Linked DNA regions of Homo sapiens. The protein of the gene in region 2 interacts with the protein of the main gene of each other region in a pairwise test. Each region holds a gene or a part of one and is shown on either strand. Other genes may lie near its edges.

Region 1 (4,493 bases), on a different chromosome or scaffold from region 2:
AGTTTGCTTGTGATTTAAATTTCAAAAAATAGTTTGTAGAAAACACAAAAAGAATCAACTGTTTAAAGTCTTATCCTTTTCTTCACTCTACAACAGCTACTTCTACAAAAAAGAGTATGTGGACACTTTCTAAGAACTCAGAAACAAGAAAACCAAAATCAGAGGTTGCATGAATATATGTGCACACATATGTACAGACTTAATCTCTACATCCCCCAAGACAGATTTAAACAGGTAATCCCAAAATTCTAAATTCAGAAACCAGAGATAAACAGTTTTGTTTCTAAATCAGTGGTATTACTAGATGAAATGTTTAGAATACTGCACTTATAGTTCAGCAGTACTTTGATTATATATCTCATTTAAAAAAATCAAAATAATAACCACATTCTTCTAACAGCAAAGAATTCTCCCACTTTTTATTTATTTTGAAATACTGATATTTCTATAAACCTGCAAGTGGAAGATAAGCTGTTCAATAAAAGCCTTATTTTATATATATAAATATATATTATACAGACATTATTTTAGAAGTCTGTTCATATAACAGATTATTTTGGTACTAACGAAAATTGTATACGATTCATCAATTGTATGGCTAGAAATGAAACCATAACCAAACCAAGACACACAGGGCTTTCCTGCACTTCGTTTAAGGAAAATATTCCACATAATTCTTACTGCGTTAGAGGAATAAAGTACATTTGTCATAGTATACATTATCATATTCCCTTAAAGCAGGGACTATTTAAAGTTTTTAAATTAAAAAATGTCCAGGCTTACTTCTGTCTGTACATTCAGGAATAATCATATCACTGGTTACATACAATTCTCATGCAAAGAAAACCCTCAAAAAACAAAAAAAAACCCTCGGTTGTTTTCTTAAGTCTAATTAAGCCAAACTAATAATAGCAATTTAATTAGCAATCTGTAAATCGAGAGGCATAGAAATTCAGCAGTTAAACTGTATTTCCTGCCTATAGTACTGCTGCTACTCAATCTATTTTCTTCATGTATTAGAAGAATTCATAGGCATTGATGGTCAAAATAAGAATTTCCACACAGCAGCAAATGACAGAAGAGTGACAGAAAGAGTTCCTAATGTCGTGACAATCTTAATGATCCTTTAAAAGGTAAAAGATTGTGTGTGTATGTGTGGAAAGGAGTAGGAAATAAAAGCAGGAGGTTAAGACAGGTATTTAAAGGGAATGGCGAGATAGCTACATTAGAATATTTATTTTTTAAAAAACTGCTCTGAAGTCTGCCCAGTGTACCAAAAACATTAAAAAACAAAAACAAACAAACCCCCTGCCAAAAAACAGAGCAGACATTGGTGAAAGTTTAACCTGATAATTTATTTGTGGGGAAAAAAGCTAGTTTTGATGAGAAAAAGTTCAGTCCTTTCCTTGTAAACACAAAGAAACTCAACAGGAATTTTAAAGGTAGTAGGTCAGAAAATGCAACAGTAACTCTTACAATTCTTTTCAATTAAACAGACAAATCAAGTTGAAGAGAAGTGTTAAAATACGATTCAGCTTGAATATTTATAAGTCTATATATCCTGTTGTTCAACTGGCTTTTGATTTTTAAAAAAACAAATCAACAAACTTTGTAAGAGCTACCACATTTCGAGTGATGAAAATAAATTAGTTCCCCCCCAAAGATATTGCTTAACTTCTAAAGCATAAAAAGCTCTATAATATCTTATACAAATTAACCAGTGTTCTTATGAAAGTAATGCAGTTTTGGACTGATGATATTACACTGTATTTGTGGTAAAGTACTAGGCATAAGAATATATATATCAATTAGGCATTTTCAGTCTAATTAGTCTCTAAGTTTATCATTTAATTCTTGGCAATATATAATAACTGGTATGCATTTTGGTACTTAAGTCATGAATTGTGGAGAACAAGAAGCAATGTATTATAGTCACAGGGTTTATATCTAACAAACAATTGCAGTGTTGAACAAATCTCTTCTATGAACTTCGTAATTTGTTTTGCTGTTGGTCACTTGGAGTAGATCCTTGATTTGATTCTTCCGTATTCATGCTTTCTCCATCTGCAGTCTCTAACATTTCTTCATCTTCATCATCATCATGTAGGTCTTTTGAAATTAATTGTCTGGCTAGTTTGATATTGAGTCCTTCATTGTAGTGAAGCTTCCTTCTCATTTCAAATTGTCGCTTTTTTTCTCGTTCTTCAGGTGAGAGGTCACTATCCTCCTCTCCACTGCTTTCTTGTTCCTGAATCCGGTACTTTGGCTCCAAGCCTTCAGCAGCAGCTAATTTCTTGGCTAGGATGTCTGGCGCCATGGCTTCAGTGGTCTCGGTGTCCCTACACGCATCTTCATCATCACCCATCATACTATGGTAAGGAGGGCTTGGTTCATCTATTTTCATTAAACCATAGCCTTTGTCTGCTGGATGATAGGTCGCCAAGATGTTAATTTCATCCCACTTCTGGGATTTTTTGCTCAGCTCCTCGTCGACACTCCTGCGGGGCTGTTCGGCCGACGCCACCATAGAGGAAGTCGTAGAGGTCTTGTTCTTCAAGATCCCCTTGATGGGCCGGTGGGAGGCCGTCGAGGCCGCCATTGCCGGGCGCTCCGGCTGTCGCCTCAGGGTCGCTGCTTGGCGTGGGGTCCGCGAAGAGAAGGGTCGGCACAGCAGAGACTCGCAGGCAGCCGCAGAGCCCGCTCAGGGCTAAAGCGGCCGCACCTGCTGCCTCGGAAACGGCTACTGGAGCGGTTGTCACAACGACCCCGACGCCAGAGCCAACGCCGAATGGGTGGCGGCTCCTCGCGCACCATTAGCCGCCGGCACTTGACCCGCGGCTCGCGGAGAGATGCCGGCCTAGAGCTCCGCGGGGAGTGGTGGGTGGGGGGTGGTGGGTGTGGTGGGGGTGGGGGGGGTGGAGCAAATCCGACGCCCTTTTTCATAGTTCTTTTGTACTGTGGACACCATGAGGCTTACAAAAAAAAACATCTTTATAGATGTAACAAGTTGTAAAGAGATGAAAACTTACAGAGCACGAAAACACAATAGAAACAAACTTTATCCCCCCACCACATTTTGACTTTATATTGTCTCAATTAATATATTTTTATATTGCCTAACTCTTGACGATTACTGTAGCTATTAAAGTTTTTGATTTGTCTTTTAGGCTTTATACTAGAGTTATAAGTGGGTTTCACACCACCTTTACAAGTATTAGGGCATTCTGGATTTTTCTGTGTACTTACAGTGGGTTTTATACCTCAAATGTTTTCTTTTTGCATGGTGGTGGCGGTGGTGATGGTGGTTTTTCTTATCGAAGAATTCCCGATGTGGCACGGTGGCTCATACCTGTAATCCCAGCACTTTGGGAGGCTGAGGTGGTCAGATCACTTGAGGTCAAGAGTTTGAGACCAGCCTGGCCAACATGGTGAAACCTCGTCTCTATTAAAATACAAAAATTAGCTAGGCATGGTGGTGCGTGTCTGTAATCTCAGCTACTTGGGAGGCTGAGGCAGGAGAATTACTTGAACCTGGAAGGTGGAGGTTGCAGTGAGCTGAGATCATGCCATTGCACTCCAACCTGGGTGACAGACTGAGTCTCTGTCTCAAAAGAAAAAAAAAAAAGAATTCCGTTTAGCATTTTTTATAGGATGGGTTTGGTGTTGAATTCTCTCTGCTTTTGTTCGTCTGAGAAAGACTTTATCCCTCCTGTTTGAATGATAGCTTTGCTGGATACAGTAGTCTTTGATGGCAGTTACTTTCTTTCAGCACTTTCAAAATGTCATCCTACTCCCTTCTGGCCTGTGTGGTTTCTGTTGAGAAGTTTGTTGCCAGATGAATTGGAGCTTCTTTATATGTCATTTGCTGCTTTTCTCTTGTTGCTTTTAGGAGTATCTCTTTGTCCTTGACTTGAGAATTTGATTATTATATCCTTTAAAGTACTCTTATTTGGGTTGAATCTGTTTGGTGTTCTCTGACCTTCCTGTACCTAGGTATTTTTCTTTCTCATGTTTTGGAGAGTTTTCTCTTATTATTTCTTTGAATAAGTTTTCTACCCCTTGTTTTTGCTCAGTTCCCACTTGAACATCCATAATTCTTGATTTTTGTCTTTTTAGGCAATTTTTCTCTATATTTTTGTTCCTTTCATTCTTTTTTCCTTTTTCTCTTGACTCCATATTTTTGTTATTGTTGTTGTTGTGTTTTGTTTTGTTTTTGGTGGAGACAGAGTCTCACTCTGTAACCCAGGGTGGAGTGTACTGGTGCAATCTTGGCTCACCACAACCTCCGCCTCCTGGGTTCAAGAGATTCCTGTGGCTTAGCCTCCTGAGTAACTGGGACTATAGGCATGCATCACCACACCTGGCTAATTTTTTGTATTTTTAGTAGAGATTGGGTTTTGCCATGTTGCCCAGGCTGGCCTCGAACTCCTGACCTCAGGCAATCCACCCACCTCAGCCTCCCAAAGGTGATGCTGTATTTTGTTTTTCTTTTC
Region 2 (4,294 bases):
GCAGATGTGTGAGCTCCTCTGCCCATCTTCACATCAAAGCAGCCTTTTTCTCTTTCTTCCTATAACTCACCGGCATCAGTCCCCTTGAACTCTCACTCTTCACTCCCCACAGCCCAATCAGAGTTCATTGTTAACGCTGTTTTACTAATGCTCCTCATTCATTTCTGAATTTACAAATGGAAAACACACACTCCAGGGTAAAATATCCCAATGGATACGGTTTCTGAAAAAGACATGTCAAATTACCCAGTAGACATGCAAGGATAATTTTAGAAATTTATTTGTATGTCCCATTTGACAGAAAGACTGGCGCTTTAAAGCGAAAACAATTAGCATAATGAGAAATAAGTCACTGAGTGAGATGCGGTGTTTTAGACAAGGTACACAGCTCTGTCTCTGGAAAGGAACAGGGTTCTGCCAAGCGTCTTTGGTTTTCAAAGTGTTGCTCCGGACATGTAGGGTCACCTGGCGGCACCGTCCAGAGCGATTTAGTTGTGGCTGATTTCGTGGGGGGTTTTTCTTGGTCTCCTTGTGCAGTGAGCATTTCTCTTCAACTATTTTCATGACATTTTTCTAATATTCTGCAAAAACAGAAAGTAGCAAATCCCAATGAGGGGACTTCTTGGCCCTACATCCTTTCTCTACGGAGCCCAAGTGGAGCTCTGGAGGTGAACTGCCCACGCTGCCCAAATGCACTACTCAGGGAAGCTCTGGCTACTATCCTGCCATGCCCCCATTTCCCTCTTGACCAAACGGTCCTCTGCCAAAGGTGGAATAATCTATGTGGCTATGTGTTGGGCCATCTGGTGTGGTTCTTTCCCACTTCTGATGGGCTCAAGAAAATTTTGATTTTTGTCATTTTCCCAGCTTTTGTTTCATGGTTTGACTGAGAGTGTCACCCTTTACTGGTTTCTACATATGAAGGAGAAAGGTTGTTTATGAGATGTTTCAAAATTCACGGGAAACATTTGACAAAAATGGCCACATATTGAGCTTCAAGGCACAATACAATAAATTCCTATGGGTCGCAATCCCAGAGTATGTTCTCTGGTCCACATACTCGGGCGGCTGGAGATCCTCTGAAAAGAAAAGCAATGGGAAAGTCAGCAGCTGCTCTGAAATTCAACAATACACTCATAGGAAAAAGTGCTAAAAATACAAAGACTTGGGACCCAGAAGAAAGCACAATGAAAGCTAACCTATATTAACATTAACATGAATATTAATATGCAAATCTCTTGAGGAAATAAGCGTTATCTGACTTCTCCTAAAGGCTGACCATCCTCTGCATAACTTGATGCTAGGGGCAAGGAACATATACTACTCCTAGCACTGGATTCATATCCTTAAATGACCATGATTACAAACACTGAAAACAAAAACATCAGGTAAAGAATCACAACCCTGTCCCCCCAAACACCAGACTGCATATCAGTGCAAGGCTGTTGTGGGTTCAGCCTGGTTCACTGCCCCCACACTGGGACAATGACTGTTGCTCATAGACTGCAAGTCACTCATTGGCTACACCACTGAACACTAGGGCATGAGCCATTTCTGTGGACACTCCCTAAGCCTACTGACACAAACCTGGAAGTAACGAAGGTTTCTGTTTAAAAAGAAACGAAAAGATTATCGTCATGGCAAAAAAAGAATGAACTGCAATAGTGATCTCAGAGTCGAGGAAGCTGGAAAATGAACGGATTCTTGAAAATTTTATTTAGCTGTATGTACACTGTAACTTGGCCTCATTTGCTTATTTACATGGATTCGTGATGGGAGCGGTGTTGAAAACATTTAGGAGGGTTACCTTGCTTCTTGTATCAGCGTATTCACTTTCTCTGTTGCTGTATGGCATACAGTGAAGTTCTGGAAAATTCCACCATCCAGTCACAGGAGAATGAGACAGAAAAAGGTAAAGATCAGTGCAGTAATAATATCACCATATAGATAGCCTAGAAACATAACTAACAAAAATGACCGTTTACGAAACTGAGGAAATGAAACACGATCACGGAAACACCCACTATTTTTCCTTGGAGCAAACTGCACTACAGATATATTGGAGCTGACAATGTTTAGTACTGAGGGGAAAATGCTTGAAACATTGCAGGATGCCACACGCCACATGCCCCCCAAGTCGGAAGGGCACCACCCACCCCAGCCTCCGGTGGTGTCCCCCTTGGCGAGCCACTGGTCTTTCAGGCCACATTCAGTGGCTCTGAAAAGACCCTTTGGGTTCCCGTGGTGCTCGGGTGCTCCTGAGGGAGCGCACTTGCTCCTGGTGTACCTGAGGACAGCCTTCGTGCCTTCGGACTCGGCGAGCTTGCCCATCTGCCCCGGCAGCAGCAGGCGCACAGCCATCCGGGTCTCCCAGGCAGTGATGGTCTGGCGCTTGGTGGAGCGGGCCAGGTGACCAGCCTCGGTGGCGATGCGGTCCAATATGTCATGAACCAAAGAATCCATGACACTCACGGCCTCCCGGGAAAGGCTGAGGCCCTGGTGAACCTGCTTCAGCACCCGGCGGAAATAGGTGGCGAAGCTGTCCCCGCGGCAGTTGGAGTGGCACCTGCGGGGCCCATGGCGCCCTCGCTTCCTCTGCTTGCTCTGCTTCTGGGACGTAGTGGAGTTGGCCTCTTTGGGCTCCTGGGTGATCAGCTGTTCCTCAGAGGTCGTCTCAGAGGAAGGTCCAGCCATGGCGGAGGCAGTGGCCATTAGATGGCACGACCAGACAATGGCGGTTGTGGACCGGGGAAGCCGGGGCACTTCGGTACGCAGCATGGCTCCACGTCTCGGGCCAGCTTCACGTCTGATTGGATGAAGTGTCACGCAGGGAGCCTCTCAGCAAACCTACCTGCGTTGAAGGTGACTGGATGGTCCCGTTGCGTGGCATCTCGTCAACCAATCACAGTGGGCGTCTGCGGGCCTAAGCGCCCCTTGTGGCCCAGCTCGGAGAAAGTTACACAGATAGATGCCTCACGGGGCAAAAGCGCATCCGCCCTTCTCAGCTGATCCATGCCACACTGTGAGCACTTTGAAGGGTGTCACTGAAAACTCCCAAAGTTTAGCAATTTCAGCTCATGATCCCTGAGGAGAGACAGACCTCCTGAGCCCAAGTCCATTATGCCGGAAGAATGACTGTGGCCACGTGTGGAACAATTGTCACCCATCTCAGAAGCTACTGTTATCCTGGGCTAAGCCACCCTGGCTTGAGCAGGAACTCCCTGACATGGCCGCCTGGGCATCAAAGGACCTAGCGGTCTGGCTCCGGGCTTCAGTACTGATCAACATCTTCCGTGAATCAGGAGAATGAGAAATGGCCATACCCCAGCCTCCAAGCAGACAATAGAAACAGAAAGGCACTTTTATTAAAAACATATGACAACACTCGACATCGACCAGGTTTAAAAAAATAATTAAAAAAAAAAAAAGGAAAGCAAAACAACAACCACAAATCACAACTCAAAAGCTGGAAATGGCTAATAAGTTTAAGAGATATTGGGTTAAAAAATATCGCCTTAAATCTCCTAGGAAGCCCCTGAGGGAGAGAAAGGGATTCCAGAAATGGAAATTATGTTCAAGTTAGAAAGAGAGCTTTCAAGAGTCTCTGATAATATACGCAAAGGCATTCCTTAAATGCATTTAAGTAACATTAAGTTGCAGGAATTGAACAAGAAAGATTCTTAAGAAATGCTGAAGAAATAAAGGTCATCGATGAACTGTCATTTCAAAGGTCAGGCTTTCAAGTGTATTTCCTGTCATGTCTTTAGCAAACAACTTATTCTACTCCTAATAAATTGGTTCACGATTAAGAAGGACAAAAAGGCTCATTTTTGTTGTTAGATAAGATCGTATATGGTAAGCTCTGTGACTGAACTCTAGTACACCATTTCTGAACAGTCCCCTTTACAAATGATGATCTTATAAATCTACTTAAACGTTTAGCAAGACAATCCTTCTCGTAGTTTGGTACAAGGCACAAGAGACCTGTCCACAACAATCTCTGTATTCATATCAGTAAGTCAGCATGATATTTTTCTTAAAAAAAAAAAAGCAAACAAAAAACAGGGAAAGAGCCACATCGTTTTTCTTCACAATCTGCAAGGTTAAACCTCCCAGGGAGGCTCTCACTGGTTCATTTCCGGGTCACCTCCCCACACTTTCAGCCATGGCTTGTGGTGCCTCAAGGGCTGGAAAGCCTTTATTGCCTGAGCCAGTGGTGACTATGGCATGAGCTGCTCTCACAGGATGTTCCCATCATCTACGTGATGCAAAATTGTAATATATAGTCCTTATT

What was found.
Region 1: the proteins of H2BW1 (region 2) and PPP1R2B interact in binary tests that used the Homo sapiens proteins (3 or more experiments, as listed by UniProt).

What each region holds. Positions count from the first base shown.
Region 1 is NC_000005.10:156,848,669-156,853,161, reverse strand, and holds PPP1R2B (protein phosphatase inhibitor 2 family member B), read right to left. Parts: upstream 2,868-4,493; 5' UTR 2,600-2,867; coding exon 1,982-2,599; 3' UTR 634-1,981; downstream 1-633. UniProt on the Homo sapiens protein: Inhibitor of protein-phosphatase 1.
Region 2 is NC_000023.11:104,010,883-104,015,176, forward strand, and holds H2BW1 (histone H2B type W-T), read right to left. Parts: upstream 2,827-4,294; 5' UTR 2,695-2,826; coding exon 2,288-2,694; intron 1,867-2,287; coding exon 1,830-1,866; 3' UTR 1,808-1,829; intron 582-1,807; 3' UTR 265-581; downstream 1-264. UniProt on the Homo sapiens protein: Atypical histone H2B that can form nucleosomes structurally and dynamically indistinguishable from those containing conventional H2B.